Regions from separate parts of the Homo sapiens genome. Here region 1 is linked to region 2. The links come from fine-mapping of genetic effects on gene expression. A gene starts in region 2. The other region holds a variant in brackets. All regions are shown on one strand. Distances are between the middles of the regions. Region 1 has its middle 9.6 kb from the start of AP1M2. Region 2 holds the start of SLC44A2 (solute carrier family 44 member 2 (CTL2 blood group)).

Evidence for each region. PIP is the estimated chance that this variant, and not a neighbour inherited with it, causes the effect.
Region 1: its variant is fine-mapped to the expression of SLC44A2 in blood mononuclear cells (TOPMed, PIP above 0.99). The same link has a PIP of 0.9 or more in whole blood.

What each region holds. Positions count from the first base shown.
Region 1 is chr19:10,592,258-10,601,588 of GRCh38, forward strand. It overlaps the pseudogene LSM2P1. Among named protein-coding and RNA genes, the nearest start is that of AP1M2, 9.6 kb to the left of the region's middle. RefSeq lists enhancers at 336-860, 1,387-1,911, 3,386-3,575. The variant G/T (reference allele first, on the strand shown) is at 4,467.
Region 2 is chr19:10,620,518-10,629,848 of GRCh38, forward strand. SLC44A2 (solute carrier family 44 member 2 (CTL2 blood group)) reads left to right here and starts at 5,036. Exons shown (of 22, transcript NM_020428.4): 1 at 5,036-5,153; 2 at 5,736-5,784; 3 at 7,205-7,278; 4 at 7,403-7,487. The coding sequence starts at 5,117. RefSeq lists an enhancer at 3,494-4,075.

The DNA of each region.
Region 1 (9,331 bases), 28 kb before region 2:
CTCTCAAAGTGCTGGGATTACAGGCGTGAGCCACCGTGCCTGCCCAATTTTTAAATTTTTTGTAGAGATGGGGTCTCGCTACGTTGCTCAAGCTGGTCTTGAGCTTCTGGCCTCAAGCTGTCCTCCCACCTCAGCCTTCCAAAACACTGAGATTACAGACACGAGTCACCTCCCCCAACTCTATTATCTTCATTTGACAGATAGGGAAACTGAGGCCTTGAGAGAGTAAGTGATTTGTACAATGTCATCCAGTCAGAAGAAGCAGAGCTGGGATTTGAGCTCTGGAAAGCACAAGGTTTTTTTGTTTTGTTTTGTTTTTTGTTTTGAGACAGAGTCTCGCTCTGTCGCCCAGGCTGGAGTGGAGTGGTGTGATCTTGACTCACTGCAACCTCCGCCTCACGGGTTCGAGTGATTCTTCTGTCTCAGCTTCCCAAGTAGCTGGGACCACAGGTTTGTGCCACTATGCCTGGCTAATTTTTGTATTTTTAGTAGAGATGGGGGTTCGCCATTTTGGCCAGGACGGTCTCAAACTCCTGACCTTGTGATCCGCCCGCATTGCACGTTGGCCTCCCAAAGTGCTGGGATTACAGGTTTGAGCCACTGCACCCGGACTTTTTTGTTTTTTGAGATGGAATTTCACTCTTGTTGCCCAGGCTGGAGGGCAATGGTGCAACCTTGGCTCACCATACCCTCCGCCTCCCAGGTTCAAGTGATTCTCCTGCCTCAGCCTCCCAAGTAGCTGGGATTACAGGCATGCACCACCATGCCTGGCTAATTTTGTATTTTTAGTACAGACAAGGTTTCTCCATGTTGGTCAGGCTGGTCTCAAACTCCCGACCTCAGGTGATCCACCCACCTCAGCCTCCCAAAGTGCTGGGATTACAGGGGTGAGCCATCGCACCTGGCCCTGATTATTATTATTATTATTATTATTATTTTTGAGGCAGGGTCTCTGTCACCCAGGCTGGAGTGCAGTGGTGTGATCTCAGCTCACTGCAACCTCCACCTCCCCAGGTTCAAGCAATCAAGCAATTCTCCCACCCCAGCCTCCTGCACAGCTGGGACCACAGGTGCGTGACCACCACATCCAGCTAATTTTTATACTTTTTGGTACAGACAGGTTTCACAATGTCGCCCAGGCTGGTCTCCAACTTGTGGACTTAAGTGGTCCACCCGCCTCGGCCTCCCACAGTGCTGGGATTATAGGCGTGAGCCATCTCGCCCAGCCTAAAGCCCAAGACTTTATGTTGCTTCTGCCCAAAGGAGGGGGGTGGTCCTTCATGCTCCCAGCAACTGCCTGCTGAGAAGGTCACCTAGGGGGATGCAGTCACTGCTAGGCCCTCACCCCAGCCTAGACATTGCTGAACCTCAAAATAACTCGTCTCCTGGCAGCCGGGCGTGGTGGCTCACGCCTGTAATCCTAGCACTTCGGGAGGCTGAGGTGGGTGGATCACCTGAGGTCAGGAGTTTGAGACCAGCCTGGCCAAAATGGTGAAACCCTGTCTGGACTAAAAATACAGAATTAGCCGGGGGTGGTAGCACATGCCTGTAATCCCACCTACTCAGGAGACTGAGGCAGGAGAATCACTTGAAACTGGGAGGCAGAGGTTGCAGTGAGCCAAGATTGCGCCATTGCACTCCAGCCTGGGGCAATAGAGTGAGACTCTGTCTCAAAAACAACAACAACAACAAAATGAAGAACTCATCTCCTGGGGCCCTGAGATGTTTTCAGGCAGTAAGCAGAACCCGAAAGCCTGGGCCCAGTGCCCTGGAATCTGAAACTCCAGGCTTGTTTGGCATGAAAAATTCATGAGCCCAAAAGCTTACTTGGGGTCAGAGAACAGAGCAGCTCTGTGTGCTGGCTCTGCCTGCCCCGCCTGCCCCACCTCAGTGGCGGCCTCCCCCATCCCCCTGAGGCTGTGGCCTTGTCCTAGTTCCTTCTGGATGCCTGGAGCCTCCTCCAGCCTCTCCCAGGGACCACGCCTCTAGGCCCTGTCCACAATCCCTTCTCCACACCACTAAAGAGATCTCTCTGAAACTCACAATTATTTTTTGACTCTCACTCTCACATCCTCTATGGCCCCCCATTGCCCTCCAACCACCCCCACCTGGCACAGTCAGACACCTGCTGACCTCTGCCACAGGACACCACCTGAACCTGCTGTCCCAGACACCCTAACTGCCCGAATTTCAGTTCCTCTCCTGCTGTCTCAAGCCATCCTCCCACCTCAGCCTCCCAAGTAGCTGAGACTATAGACACGTGCCACCACAGCTGGCCACCTTAGCCATTTTGAAGTGCACAGTTCGGTGGCATTAAGCACATTAATGGCCATGCAACCGTCACCACCATCCATCTCCAGAACTTTCTCATCTTCCCAAAGGAAAACTTCTCCCTATGAAACACTCCTTCTCCCTCTCCCAACCCCTGGCACCCACTCTTCTTCTTCTTCTTCTTCTCCTTTTCCTTCTCCTCCTCCTCCTTCTTCTTCTTCTTTTCTTTTTTTTATTTATTTTGAGATGGAGTCTCACCGTCACCGAGGCTTGAGTGCAGTGGCACAATCTCGGCTCACTGCAGCCTCCATCTCCTAGGTTCAAGCAGTTCTCCTGCCTCAGCCTCCTGAGTAGCTGGGATTACAGGCGCCCCCCACCACGCCCAGCTAATTTTATTTTTTTATATTTTATTTATTCATTTACTTTTATTATTTTATTATTATTTTTTTTTGAGACAGAGTCTCGCTCTGTTGCCCAGGCTGGAGTGCAGTGGCACGATCTCAGCTCCCTGCAAGCTCTGCCTCCCGGGTTCATGCCATTCTCCTGCCTCAGCCTCCCGAGTAGCTGGGACTACAGGTGCCTGCCACCACACCCGGCTAATTTTTGTATTTTTAGTAGAGGCAGGGTTTCGCCATATTGGCCAGGCTGGTCTCTTGGCCAAGCTGGTCTGGAACTCCTGACCTGGAGATGTGCCTGCCTCAGCCTCCCAAAGTGCTGGGATTATAGGCGTGAGCCGCCGCGCCCAGCTTTTTTTTCTTTTTTTTTTGAGACGGATTCTCACTTTGTCGCCCAGGGGCTGGAGTGCAGTGGCGCAATCTCAGCTAATTGCAACCTCCTCCTTCTCCTAGTTCAAGTGATTCTCCTGCCTCAGCCTCCCAAGTAGCTGGGATTACAGGCATCTGCCACCACGCTGGGCTAATTTTTGTATTTTTGGTAGAGACTGGGTTTCGCCATGTTGACTAGGCTGGTCTCAAACTCCTGACCTCAAGTGATCCACCCATCTCAGCCTCCCAATGTGCTGGGATTACAAGTGTAAGCCACCATGCCCAGCTACTCAGGAGTCTGAGGTGGGAGGATCACTGGAGCCCAGAAGATTGAGGCTGCAGTGAGCTATGGTTGCACCACTGCACTCCAGCCTCGGTGACAAAGCAAGAACCTATCTTAAGAAAATACTGTGCTGAGCCAGTTCCTGAGAAAACAAAATAGAAAACAAAACTAAAGAAAAGGCAAAAGTTCCTCCCAGCAGAGATGTGAGAGAAAAAGAAAAAAAAAGTCCCCTGTGACACCCCCATACCCCAATCTTCGTCCCTCTCATAACCACTGGCTGATTCAGATCTTTTTCAGCTGGGTTACATGCAGGGGGGTGTGTGTGTGTGTTTGTGTGTGTGTGTGTGTGTGTGTGTGTGTGTGCGCGTGTTGCCCTCTTTCTCTCTCTTTCTCCCATACCATATAAGACTATACAACTTGTGGATGGGCACAGTGGCTCTCACCTGTAATCCCAGAACTTTGGGAGGCAGAGGCGGGTGGGGCACTTGAGGCCAAGAGTTCAAGAGCAGCCTGGGCAACATGGCAAAAAATCTGTCTCTACTAAAAATATAAAAACTGGCCAGGTGTGGTGGCTCACGCCTGTAATCCCTGCACTTTGGAGGCTAAGGCAGGTGAATCACCTGAGGTCAGGAGTTTGAGACAAGCCTGGCCAACATGATAAAATCCTGTCTCTACTAAAAATACAAAAAATTAGCCAGGTATGCTGGCGGACACCTGTAATCCCAGCTACTCGGGAGGCTGAGGCAGGAGAATTGCTTGAACCCAGGAGGCAGAGGTTGCAGTGAGCCGAGATCATGCCACTGCACTCGAGCCTGGGTGACAGAACAAGAATCTGTCTCAAAAACAAAACAAAACAAAACAAACAAGCAACAACAACTATATATATATATATATATATGTATATAGACTAAGCTGGGCATGGTGGTGCGTACCTGAAATCCCAGCTACTCCAGAGGCTGAGGCACACAAATCACTTGAACCCAAGAGAAGGAGGTTTCAGTGAGCTGAGCTCGCACCACTGCACTCCAGCCTGGGCGACAGAGAGAGACTCTGTCTTAAATAAAAAAAAAAAAATACAACTTGCTATTATCACTCAACAATATGACCTGGACGCTACTCCGGAAAGCATGTGGTTGAAGGGGAAGGAA[G/T]TGTGTCTTGGGTGTAAAGTCGGACTCCCTGGGTTCAGATCCTTGCAGAGCCACGGGCTCATTATGTTACTGTGGGTAAATTACTTCACCTCTCTGGGTCACTTTCCCCAATTGGAAAATGATTATAATGATTTAATACAGAGTGCTTGGGCCAGACGCGGTGTCTCACGCCTGTAATCCCAGCACTTTGGGAGGCCGAGGCGGTGGATCATGAGGTCAGGAGATTGACACCATCATGGCTAAGACAGTGAAACCCGTTCTTCACTAAAAATACAAAAAACTAGCTGAGCGTGGTGGTGGGTGCTGTAATCCCAGCTACTCAGAAGGCTGAGGCAGGAGAATTGCTTGAACCCGGGAGGCAGATGGTGCAGTGAGCTGAGATCACGCCACTGCACTCCAGCTTGGCGACAGAGTGAGACTCCATCTCAAAAACTAAAACAAACAACAACAACTATATACACACACACACACACACATACACACACAGAGAGCACTTTACTGGGTGAGCCAAGATCGCGCCACTGCCCTCCAGCAGCCTTGGTTCAAAAAAAAAAGGTGCTTGGCCAGCATGGTGGCTCATGCTTGTAATCCCAGCACTTCAAGAGGCCAAGATGGGCAGATCGATTGAGGCTAATGAGACCTGGTCTCTATTTCAAAAAAAAGAAAAAGAGTTAAAAAAATATATAAAGCATTTAATACCTTGTCTGACACTGACTAAGCTTTCTATAAACATTCACTCTTTCTTTCCTTTTTTTTTTTTTTGAGACCGAGTCTCGTTCTGTCACCCAGGCTGGTGTGCAATGGTGCACTCTTGGATCACTGCAACCTCTGACTCCCAGGTTCAAGTGATTCTCCTGCTTCAGCCTCCCAAGTAGCTGGGATTACATGCATGTGCCACCACACTCGGCTAATTTTGTATTTTTAGTAAAGACGGGATTTCTCCATGTTGGTCGGGCTGGTCTCGAACTCCCGACCTCAGGTGATCCGCCCGCCTCGGCCTCCCAAAGTGCTGGGATTACAGGTGAGAGCCACTGCGTCTGGCCTTAGAGACAGATTTTCATCGTGTTGTCCAGGCTAATCTTGAACTCCTGTCCTCAAGTGACCCTCCTGCCTCCCAGAGTGCTGGGATCACAGATGTGAGCCACCACTCCTGGCTGTAAACAGTCACTCTTATTATAATCTGCAGGACCACCACCTTTTTTCTTAAACTATTTTAAAAATTCTCATTTTGAAATGTAACTTTTTTATTTATTATGTATACAAACACACATATATATTTGCATCATAAATGTTATTCCCAATATGGGACAGATTCCTTTCAACCCCCAGGTGAATCACATGGTACCCTGGAAAGACCTAGGAAGCCCTCCCTCCCACCATCTCCAGGGAGGTAGTGAGAACGGCAGGTGCTGGGGACTGGGAAGGCTTTGGAGTTTCCCAGCCTACCTCTTCTCCCTTTCTCAACAAAGGATACCTGTTCCCTATTATTCCCCTTATCCACTCTTCCCTTTTTTAAAAAAAACCCACAAAACCATCATTAGTAAAAAAACAAACAAAACCCCTTCAAGTATTGGGAGTTAGGGGTCCTGGGCTGGGACTTGGAGTTACAGGTCACCAAGGAAGAGGGAAGGGAAGAGAAGGAGGGGCTGTCACTTACTACTGCTGGCTTTCTTCCTTGCTGCATGCTATGGCAACTGTGTGTCGACCTCCTTTGCTGGCAACTGCACGTATGGGACCACTGAGCCCGGAATGAAACAGTCCTTTTTAAAAAACTTTTTTTGAGACAGAGTCTCGCTCTGTCACCCAGGCTGGAGTGCAGTGGCATGATTTCAGCTCACTGCAGCCTCCACCTCCCGGGTTCCAGCAACTCTCCTGCCTCAGCTTCCCGAGTAGCTGTGAATACAGGCGCCCGCCACCACATCCGGCTAAGTTTTGTATTTTAGTAGAGATGGGGTTTTGCCATGTTGGCCAGGCTGGTCTCAAACTCCTGACCTCAGGTGATCCACCTGCCTTGGCCTCCCAAAGTGCTGGGGTTACAGGTGTGAGCCACTGCACCCAGCCTAGAAGTTCTTCACTGATAAAATGTGAGGATATTTCTCAAGGTGTGTGATACTGATGTCAGCTCATTTGATGTTGAGATACTGATCCACCGAATGGAGGGTGCCACAGATGTTCAGGTCTTTCTTGAGTTCCATGACCACATTCATGCCCACAAGGGACTTGAAAAAAGGAATAGAAGAGCATGATGCTGGCGACCTGACCAGGAAGAGCAACACATATTTTATTTTATTTATTTATTTATTTGAGATGCTGTCTCACTCTTTCACCCAGGCCGGAGTGCAGTGGTGCAATCTTGGCTCACTGCGACCTCTGCCTCCCGGGGTCAAGCAATTCTCTGCCTCAGCCTCCTGAGGAGCTGGGATTACAGGCGCCCGCCGCCACGCCCGTCTAATTTTTTTTTTTTTTTGTATTTTTAGTAGGGACCAGGTTTCACCAAGTTAGTCAAGCTGGTCTTGAACTCCTGACCTTGTGATCCACTCAACTCAGCTTCCCAAAGTGCTGGGATTACAGGCGTGAGCCACCGTGCCGGGCCAGCAACACATATTTTAAAAGGGCAGAAGTCGGTTGGGCACAGCGGCTTACACCTGTAATCCCTGCACTTTGGGAGGCTGAGGTTGGTGGATCACCTGAGATCAGGAGTTCGAGACCAGCCTGGGCAACATGGCGAAACCCCGTCTCTACTAAAATACAAAAATTGCCACTGTACTCCAGCTTGGGCAACAGAGCAAGATTCTGTCTCAGAAAAAAAAGGCAGGCAGAGTACGGGGGAGAAGGTCAAGTATTCACAAACTAAACTAAGCTATGTAACTACAATTCTGTTTCCAGTGCCCAGAAGCTGCTCCTATCATCCCAGTAGTTATTACTACCCCAAAAGTCAACCACTGATATATGTTCTGTTACTATAGGTTGATTAGCTATGCCTGTTCTTGAACTTCAGAAAAAAGTGTGTGGTTTCTTTCACACAACATTATGCTTTTTGGGGAGAGATTCATCCATATTTTTGCCTGTATCAATAGTTTATTCCTGGACCAGGCGCTGTGGCTCACACCTGTAATCTCAGCACTCTAGGAGGCTGAGGCAGAAGGATCACTTGAGACCAGCCTGGGCACCCATAGGGAGACCCTCATCTCCACAAAAATTTAAAAAATTAGCCGAGTATGTCCAGGTGCGGTGGCTCATGCCTATAATCCCAGCACTTTTGGAGGCTGAGGGGGGCGGATCACCTGAGGTCGGGAGTTCCAGACCAGCCCGACCAACATAGAGAAACCCCGTCTCTACTAAAAATACAAAATTAGCCAGGCGTGGTGGTGCATGCCTGTAATCCCGGCTACTCAGAGACTAAGGCAGGAGAATCACTTGAACTTGGGAGACGGAGGTTGCGGTGAGCTGAGATCACACCATTGCACCATTGCACTCCAGCCTGAGCAACAAGAGTGAAACTTTGTCAAAAAAAGAAAGAAAGAAAGAAATTAGCCAGGCATGATAGTGTGTGCCTGTAGTCCCAGCAACGGGAGGCTGAGGCAGGAGGATCACTTGAGCTGAGGAGGTCAGGGCTTCAGTCAGCTATGACTGCACCATCGCAATCCAGCCTGGGCAATACAGCAAGATCCTGTCCCTAAAAAAAGAAAGAAGAAAACATTCATTCCTCATCACTAAGGAGAATCCCATGGTATGGGTGAAACCCACCATGGTTTGCTTCACCAATGATCTGTTAATGGGCATTTGGGCTGCTCCTAGTTTTTTTGCCCACTACGAATAAGGATACTATAAGGCTATCATGAACATTTATATGAATGTGTCTGTGGGTTTTTCTTTTCTTCACTTATACTTTTTCTTGGGTATATACCTAGAAGTGCAATTTCTAGGGTATTAACTTTGCAAGAAACTGCCAGATCGTTTTCCAACTGGTTGTGGCATTTTACATTCTCACCAACAGTGTAGGAGAGCCCCCATATGCTTCCCATCTTCCTCAACACTTGGTTCGACCAGTCTTTTTAATTTTAGCTATTCAGGTGGGTGTGCAATGATATCTCATCGAGGTTTTGATTTACATTTCCCTGATGACTTCGTGCTTTATTCTTTTTTCTTTCTTTCTTTCTTTTTTTTTTTTTTTTTGAGACAGGGTCTCACTCTGTCACCCAGGCTGGAGTGCAGTGATGTTTTCACCCATTTTTCTTTCTTTTTTTTTTTCTTTTTGAGACAGAGTTTCGCTTTTTGCCCAGTTCTGTTGCCCAGTTTGGAGTGCAATAGCGTCATCTCAGCTCACCGCAACCTCCACCTCCTGGGTTCAAGCGATTCTCCTCCTCAGCCTCCAGAGTAGCTGGGATTACAGGCATGTGCCACCACACCAGGCTAATTTTTTGTATTTTTAGTAAAGACAGGGATTCTCCATGTTGGTCAGGCTGGTCTCGAACTCCCGACTTCAAGTGATCCGCCCGCCTCGGCCTCCCAAAGTGCTGGGATTACAGGCGTGAGCCTCCGCACCCGGCCTGTTTTCACCCATTTTTTCCACAATAACTGTCAAGGCTGCAGGGAACACCCCTTGGTTACTACATCCCATGCACACACACCTGCAGTGGTTTGTCCAGGGTCAGTGCCAGACAGGAATCGCACCAGGTGAACATGACTTGGATATACTCTTTCTGCCAGGAAACATTCTGCTTCAAAGTATTCACTCACCTGATTTTATGTTATTAAACTCTAAAATTCTTACCAATCTGATGAATGAAAATGGCATCTTTTGGTATGTTCAGTGGTACACGGTGATCAATATTTACCTATCAATTATTTATCTATCCATCTTC
Region 2 (9,331 bases):
TCTAAGCTCGTTTTTATTTTCAGTGTTCACTCTACATACATGTATTATATATTGTGGCTATTCATTCAACAAATACTTATTAAATGTTTGTTTTATGCCAGGGGCTATGCTGTATACTGGGGACGCAGCCGGAATGAAAGACACACAAATCCCTGTCCTTATGCAGGCAATAGGCAAGAGGGCAGATAATTAACAACCAATAAGCAAATGTCTAACATGTCAGATGGTGATAAGAAGCAAAATGTATCACATCTGTAATCCCAGGGTTTTGGGAGGCCGAGGTGGGAGGAAGGCTTGAGCCCATTGAGCACAGGAGTTTGAGACCAGCCTTGGGCAACATAGCGAGACACTGGTCTACAAAAAATTTTAAAATTAGGCAGGCATGGTGGTGTGTGCCTATAGTCACAGCTACTTGGGAGGCTGAGGCGAGAAGATCATTTGAGCCTAGGAGGTTTAGGCTGCAGTGAGCTATGATTGCTCCACTGCATTCCAGGCTGAGTGACAAAGCAAGACTCTATTTGATAATAACAACAAAGAGAAAGTCATAGGGGTCAGGTATAGTGGCTCATGCCTATAATCCCAGCACTTTGGGAGGCCAAGGTGGGCAGATCACTTGAGGTCAGGAGTTCGAGACCAGTAGTAGAGACATGGTAAAAGCCAGTCTCTGCTACTAAAAATACAAAAATCAGCCAGGCACGTTGGTGTGTGCCTGTAGTCCCAGCTACTTGGGAGCCTGAGGCAGGAGAACTACTTGAACCCGGGAGGTGGAGGTTGCAGTGAGCCTAGATGGCACCACTGCACTCCAGCCTGGGCGACAGAGCGAGACTCTGCCTCAAAAAAGAAAAAAAAAATGAAAGAAAGAAAAGAAAAGGTCATAGGACAGAGAGGAAAGGGATGGTTGGGTGTTTTTTTTTTTTTTTTTTTGGTTTTTGTGGGTTTTCTTTTAGATGGAGTCTTGCTCTGTCACCCAGGCTGGAGTACAGTGCCAGGATCTTGGCTCATTGCAGCCTCGACCTCTTGGTCTCAGGTGATCCTCCCACCTCCACCTCCCAAGTTGCTGGGACTACAGGTATGTGTCACCACACCTGGCTAATTTTTAATTTAATTTATTTATTTTTGAGACGGAGTTTCACTCTTGTTGCCCAGACTGGAGTGCAATGGCATGATCTCAGCTTGCTGCAACCTCCGCTTCCCAGGTTCAAGCGATTCTCGTGCCTCAGCCTCCCAAGTAGCTGGGACTACAGGCATGCACCACCTCGCCCCGGCTAATTTTTGTAGTAATAGAAACAGGGTTTCTCCATGTTGGTCAGGCTGGTCTGGAACTCCCGACCTCAGGTGATCTGCCCACCTTGGCCTCCCAAAGTGCTGGGATTATAGGCGTGAGCCACTGCGCCTGGCCTCACCTGGCTAATTTTTGTACTTTTAGTAGAGATGGGGTTTCACAGTGTTGCCCAGGCTGGTCTCGAACTACTGGCCTCCAGTGATCTGCCTGTCTCAGCCTCCCCAAGTGCTAAGATGACAGGCTTGAGCCACCACGCCTTGCCAAGGTGATATTTCAGGCAAGGCCTGAAGGCAACGGAGCTGTATGGATGTCTGAGAGAAGAGCATTCTAAGCAGAGGGACCGAGCAGCTAGTGCAAAGGCCCTGAGGTCAGACCATGCCTGCTGAGCGTGGGACGTACCCAGGAGGCCAGTGAGGCTGAACAGAGTAAGCCATGGAGAGAGAGAGGGAGGAGGTGAGGGCAGGGAGGTGACAGGGCAGGTCATGCAAGGCTTTGTGGGCTGTGGCGAAGAGCTGGGCTTTTTCCTCGGAATGAGGTGGGAACCATGGAGGTTTCTGAGCAGAGCAGGGATGTGTCCTGACTTAGGTGTGCACAGATGTCTCTGGCCGCTATAGTGAGGATAGAAAGTGTCTGTGTTGGTCCAGGCAGGAGATGACAGGGCTGTGTGAAAGGGTGGGTGCTTGAGGAGCAGGTGAGAAGAGGTTGGATTCTGGATAGCTCTGAAGGCAAAACTGATCTCAAGCAGAGAGGCAGCCCAGGTTCCTGGCCAGAGCACGTGGGAGGATGGAGCGGAGTCATGGGATAATCAGAAGCTTGGACAGGCCAGGCACGGTGGCTCACACCTATAATTACAGCACTTTGGGAGGCTGAGGTGGGAGGATCCCTGAGGCCAGGAGTTCCAGACCAGCCTGGGCAACATTGCGAGACCCTGTCTCTACTAAAAATACAAAAAATTACCTGAGTGTGGTGGCGCGTGCCTGTGATCCCAGCTACTCAGGAGGCTGAGGTGGGAGGATCGCCTGAGCCCAGGAGGTCAAAGCTACAGTGAGCTGTGATTATGCCACTGCATTCCAGCCTGGGCGACAGAGTGAGACCCTGTCTCAAAAACAAAAAAGCTTAGATGCCGCCGCACTGAGTATGAGATGCTCACGTGTGTTGGGGGGAGACAGATGTCACATAGGTGTGCAGCTCAGAGACAAGGGTTTCCAGAGGGCTTAACTTTTGGGACTCCTCAGTGTGGAGCTGGTGGGTGGGGCCTGAATAAATTGTCCCCAGGGCACCCTGTGTAGTTGGGAAGAGAAGAGGCCTGTGGCTCGCTCTCTTTGTCCACTGCTTGGAATGGGTAGGGTGGGACCAGCCAGCCTTTGGGCTGGCAGAGACTTCGAGAACCACAGGGCTTCTTTAGGAGTCTGGGTCACCCCAGGGCATGACCTGGCGCCTCAGGCCTTGCCTGTGGTCCAGGTGTTTAGACAGGGCCCCTCTGCTGGTGGCTACTAGGAGGAGAGGGCGCCTTTTTAAGGATAAGTTGAGTTAGTGACCAGAGCCCTGCCTGCGAGTCCTAGAGTCTAAGGCAGCAGCTACAATTATTGGACACCAAATGTATATGATCACGCTGACTGTATAACCTCATGCTGTCTGTGTACACCCAGCACTAAATGTATATTCCTGCTGAGGATACCTCCACACCACCTGTATAATGCCATGTTAACCAAATAATTGGCTGCACTATAAATATCTATAAATATTCAAGTAGAGGCAGGTTGTGGCGTGGTGACTCGTGCCTGCAATCCCAGCACTTTGGGAGGTTGAGGTGGGAGGATTGCTTAAGGCCAGGAGTTTGAGCCCAGCCTGGGTAACACAGTGAGATCCTGTCTCTATTTTTATTGTATTGTATTTTTTTTTTTTTTTGAGGCGGAGTCTCGCTCTGTCGCCCAGGCTGGAGTACAGTGGCATAATCTCGGCTCACTGCAACCTCTACCTCCCAGGTTCAAACGATTCTCCTACTTCAGCCTCCCCAGTAGCTGGGATTACAGGTGCCCACCACCACACCTGGCTAATTTTTGTATTTTTAGTACAGACAGGGTTTTGCCTTGTTGGCCAGGCTGGTCTTGAACTCCTGACCTCAGTGATCTGCCCGCCTCGGCCTCCCACAGTGCTGGGATTACAGGCATGAACCACCACACCCGGCTAATTTTTGATTTATTGATTGATTGATTTTTTGAGACACTCGCTCTGTCACCCAGGCTGGAGTGCAGTGGCACGATCTCGGCTCATTGCAACCTCCGCCTCTCGGGTTGAAGTGATTCTCCTGCCTCAGCCTCCCAAGTAGCTGGGACTACAGGTGCACACCACAACATCCAGCTAATTTTTGTATTTTTAGTACAGACGGGGTTTCACCAAGTTGGCCAGGATGGTCTCGATCTCTTGACCTCATGATCCGCCCACCTCGGCCTCCCAAAGTGCTGGGATTATAGGTGTTAGCCACCACACCCAGCCTATTTTCTTTTTTCTTTTTCTTTTTGGAGACAGAGTCTCACTCTGTCCCCCAGGTTGGAGTGCAGTGAGGCAATCTTGGCTCACTGCAACCTCCACCTCCTGGGTTTAAGCGATTCTCCTGCCTCAGCTTCCCAAGTAGCTGGGATTACAGGCATGTGCCACCACACTGGCTAATGTTTGTATTTTTAGTAGAGAAGGGGTTTCACCATGTTGGCCAGGCTGGCTTAGAAATCCTGATCGACCTGCCTCAGCCTCCCAGAGTGCTGGGATTACAGGCATGAGCCACTGCACCTGGCCTATGCCTGCTCTTTGAGGTCAGTTTTGGTTTCATACTTTAGCCTCATTTTGCAGTTGAGGAAACTGAGGCTTAAGGAAGATAAGCCCTTTGTTAAGTATCCTCTAGTTCAGAGGGTGCAGAAGGAGCATTTGAATTCAGGGCGACCCAGGAGGATGTGGGCTCCACAAGGGTGGAGATTGGGTCTCTCTGGTTCCTCACTGTATGCGGTGCCCCGCCCAAGGCCTGCACCCACTAAGGGCTGAATAAATACTTGTTCTAAGACCAGGCCCAGTAGTGCACGCAGGTAATCCCAGCACTTTGGGGGGCCACGGTGGGAGGAGCCCACGAGTCCAGGAGTTAAAGATGAGCCTGGGCAACATAGCAACATCCCATCTCTACAAAAAAAATTAAAAATTAGCCGAGTGCAGTAGAGCACCTGTAGTCCCAGCTACTCAGGAGGCTTAGTCAGGAGGATGGCTTGAGGCAGGGAGGTCGAGACTGCGATGAGCTGTGATTGCACCACTGCACTCCAGCCTGGGCAACAGAGGGAGATCCTGTCTCAAAAAAAAAAAGCAGCAGACAGAAAGAAAACTAATTTCCTGCACAGCTTGGAGAAGTTTTCAGCACCAACATTCCACAGTTGGTTGTCTGGGTTTGGGCAGTAGGCCGTTTTCCCTCCCAGTGCCTCAGTTTCCACACCTGCAAAACGAAGCCACGGAAACGCCCTTTCAGGGTGGCCAGGGGTTCTAGGCGGCATCGCCCGGTGGCAGGGTGTTCCCAGGGTGAAGCCGCAGGGTTCCCGGGTGGGGGCGGGGAAGGCTAAATGCGGCCGGCCGGTGAGTGGCGGGAGCAGCTGCAGCCCCGCCCGCGCCCTCCCGGGTCCCTTAGTCTGGGCAGCTGCCCAGCTCGGGCCGGTCTGACCGGTTTGGGCCGCCCCGCCTGGCGCTGTGCTGGGAGGAGCCGCCGCCAGTCGCGCGGTCAGTGCCTCCCTCCAGACTCGGGAGGGTCGAGGGGGCGCGGGAGAGAGCGCGGGCGGCCGCCGGGGCTGGTCGCCTGCAGGGATGGGGGACGAGCGGCCCCACTACTACGGGAAACACGGTAGGCAGCGACCCCCGCCCGTAGCCCCGGGCCGACCCCTCGGTCCCTCGGAGGGGGCCTTGAGAGAACATGGGGCGCAGGGAAGGGGGCTGGAGGGGGAGCGCAATTGCAAATCTGCGCCTGGAGCCTCCCCACCATCAGCCAGGCCCCTTCACCCCACTTATCCCCCGCAGCCTCGCAGACGACCCTCCTTACTCTCCCCTACCCGAAGGACCTGCCCCTGTACCCCTCTGCCTGGCACTGCTGCCGGCGCCTCCTTCCCCCTATCCCACCTCAGATCTTCCCCATCTCCACCTGGTTCCGTGGTGGTCACCATTTCAGCCCTCTTCCCAGTGGGTGGCCGCCAGTTAATAAGTTTGTTCACAGTTAGTGATCCCTCCTTCCTCCCCTGTCCTGGCCTGCCAGAACTGGGGGCTTGGGTGTGGTCACCTGGAGGTGGGTGAGGCAGAAAATTCCACAGGTCTCTGAATTTTATTCTTGCCAAGGCAAAGACACCCCTAGGGGCTTTTGGGAGGGGGCTCTCCCAGCCCTGTCTTGGTTCAGGTCTCCAATCCCATCCATCTTAATCTTCTTGACTTTCAGGAACGCCACAGAAGTATGATCCCACTTTCAAAGGACCCATTTACAATAGGTAAGAGCTCTGGGTTTTGGGGGGTTCTCCCCGCTAATACTACCCCAATCCCTGTCTCTTCACACCCCCTCCCATCTGTTCTCCAACAAACTGGTGACAAATATTTGAAACTTTTTTTTTTTTTTGAGATGGAGTCTTGCTCTGTCACCAGGCTGGAGTGCCGTGGCGCGATCTCAATCTCGGCTCACTGCAACCTTCGCCTCCCGGGTTCGAGCAATTCTCCCACCTCAGTCTCCCAAGTAGCTGGGATTACAGGCTTGCACCACCACACCTGGCTAATTTTTTTTTTTTTTTGTACTTTTAGCAGAGATGTTTCGCTGTGTTGCCCATGCTGGTCTCGACCTCGTGAGCTCAAAGCGATCCACCTGCCTTGGCCTCCCAAAGTGCTGGGATTACAGGTGTGAGTTACCACACCTGGCCTGGACTTAATTTTTACCATGTTTATATTTATTTATTTATTTATTTATTTTTGAGATGGAGTCTCACTCTGTCACCCAGGCTGGAGTGGTGCAATCTCAGCTCACTGCAACCTTCCCCTCCTGGTTCAAGCACGTCTTCTGTCTCAGCCTCTCCAGTAGCTGTGACTACTCAGAGGCTACTCAGAAGGCTGAGGCAGGAGAATTGCTTGAATCTGGGAGGTGGAGGTTGCAGTAAGCTGAGATTGCGCCACTGCACTCCAGCCTGGAGGACAAGAGCGAGACTCTGTCTCAAAAAAAAATAACAAAAAAATAAAATACAGCCAGGCACGGTGGCTCACACCTATAATCCCAGCACTTTGGGAGGCCAAGGCAGGTGGATCACTTGAGGTTAGGAGTTCGAGACCAGCCTGGCTAACATGGTGAAACCCTGTCTCTACTAAAAATACAAGAATTAGCTGGGCATGGTGGCGGGCACCTATAATCCCAGCTACTTGGGAGACTGAGGCAGGAGAATCGCTTGAACCTGGGAGGTAGAGGTTGCAGTAAGCTGAGATCGTTCCACTGCACTCCAGCCTGGGCGACAGAGTGAGATTCCCTCTCAAAAAAAAAAAAAAAGTCTAGCTTGGGCAACATAGCGAGACCTTGTCTCTACAGAATGTATATAAATTAAAAAAAAAATGTGTGGTGGTGTGCACCTGTAGTCTCAACTACTTGGGAAGCTGAGGCAGGAGGATCACTTGAGCCCAGGAGTTCGAGGCTGTAGTGAGCTATGATCATGCCACTGTACTCCAGCCTGGATGACGGAGTGAGACTCTGTTGCACAAAATTAAAAAATGAAATGAAATAAAAATTAAAATGCATGTGCCCTTTGGTACGGCATTCAAACGACTCAGGAAAATTTGTCCAAATAACACATGGATGAGGGTGTTTGCAGAGGGCAGATGGGCCCATGGTGCACACAGCACCAAGCCTCCTCCAAACACTGCCCCTCTGCTCCCCAGGGGCTGCACGGATATCATATGCTGTGTGTTCCTGCTCCTGGCCATTGTGGGCTACGTGGCTGTAGGCATCATAGGTGAGTAGAGAATGAGCAGGACTTGGAGTTGCAGGGTAGGCGGAGGCAGCCATGGCCTCTGGAGTGGGAACAGGGCTGGATCTGAGGAGTGGCAGTGTCTCAGTATCCCTGGATCTTTCCACAGCCTGGACTCATGGAGACCCTCGAAAGGTGATCTACCCCACTGACAGCCGGGGCGAGTTCTGCGGGCAGAAGGGCACAAAAAACGAGTGAGTTGACTCCTTGCGGCCTGGTGGGGCTGGGGAAGAGGGGGCAGAAGATTCTAGGCATTCCCCATCTCTCTAAGTCCAGTTAACAAGTGCTTATAGGCTGGGCGCGGTGACTCACGCCCGAAATTCCAACACTTTGGGAGGCCGAGGCAGGAATATTGCTTTAGGCTAGGAGTTCGAGACCAGCCTGGCCAACATGGCAAAACCCCGTCTCCACTAAAAATACACAAATTAGCCAGGCATGGTGGCACATGCCTGTAATCCCAGCTACTCAGGAGGCTGAGGCAGGAGAATCACTTGAACCACAGGAGGCAGAAGTTGCAATGAGCCGAGATCGTGCCACTGCACTTTAGCCTGGGGCACAGAGTGAGACTCTGTCTCAAAACAAACAAGCAAAAATTAAGTGGACGTGGTGGGGCACACCTCTAGTCCCAGCTACCCAGCAGGCTGAGGTGGGAGGATAGCTTGAGCTGGGAGGCCAAGGCTGCAGTAAGGTATGATTGTACCATTGCACTCCAGCCTGGACGACAGAGCGAGACCTGGTCTCAACAAAACAACAAGAAAAGAAAACAAGTACTGATAAACGTCCCACTACCCTCAGCCACTAGTCTAGTCCTTGGGGACACACAGCTCTAAATGAGATAGTAAGCATCCTGTTCTCTGGCAGCACACATTTTAAGGGCGGGAGAGACTGAGAGGGGACAGTCCTGGATTACGCGTCAGGTGGTGATGAACAGGTGAGACAACAGAGCAAGCATAGCCTGAGTGGCGTCACTTCCTGGCTCTGTGACCTAGGGCAGGTGTCTCAATCTCTCTGAACCTCGTTTTCCTCATCTCTAAAATGAGGATCATAACAGTCCCACCCTCATGGGGCTATTTTGATGGTTAGATGTGCCAATACATGTACAGAGCTTAGAATGCCACCTGGCATCGCTGGGCGTGGTGGCTCACACCTGTAATCCCAGCACACTTTGGGAGGCTGAGGTGGGAGGATCAAGACCAGCCTAGTCAACATGGTGAAACCCCGTCTCTACTAAAAATACAAAAAAATTAGCTGGGCATTGTGGCATGTTCCTGTAATCCCGGTTACTCAGGAGGCTGAGGCAGGAGAATTGCTTGAACCTGGGAGGCAGAGGTTGCAATGAGCCGAGATCGTGCCACTGCACTCCAGCCTAGGCAACAGAGCAAGACTCCATCTCAAAAAAAAAAAAAAGAATGGCACCTGGCATAGAGTTGCTGATGCTGCAGTTTTTAAACTATTATTATTATTATTATTACTATTATTATTTTGAAACGGAATTTTGCTCTTGTTACCCAGGCTAGAGTGCAGTGGCACAATCTCAGCCCACTGCAACCTCCGTCTCCCGGGTTCAAGCGGTTCTCCTGCCTCAGCCTCCCGAGTTGCTGGGATTACAGGCATATGCCACCATGCCCAGCTAATTTTTGTATTTTTAGTAGAGACGGGGTTTCATCATATTGGTCAGGCTGGTCTCGAACTCCTGACCTCAGGTTATCTGCCTGCCTTGGCTTCCCAAACTGCTGGTATTACGGGTGTGAGCCACCACACCCGGCCTATTATTATTATTACTATTATTATTATTTTGACACAGTGTCTCACTCTGTCAGCCAGTGGCAGGATCATAGCTCGCTACAGCCTGGAACTCCTGGGCTTAAGCGATCTTCCCACCTGGGCCTTCCAAAGTGCTGGCACAAGACAGGCCTGAGCCACCCTGCCTGGCCCTATATAAGATATCTTTTTTTTTTTTTGAGACAGAGTCTCGCTCTGTCGCCCAGGCTGGAGTGCAATGGTGCGATCTTGGCTCACTGCAACCTCCGCCACCCAG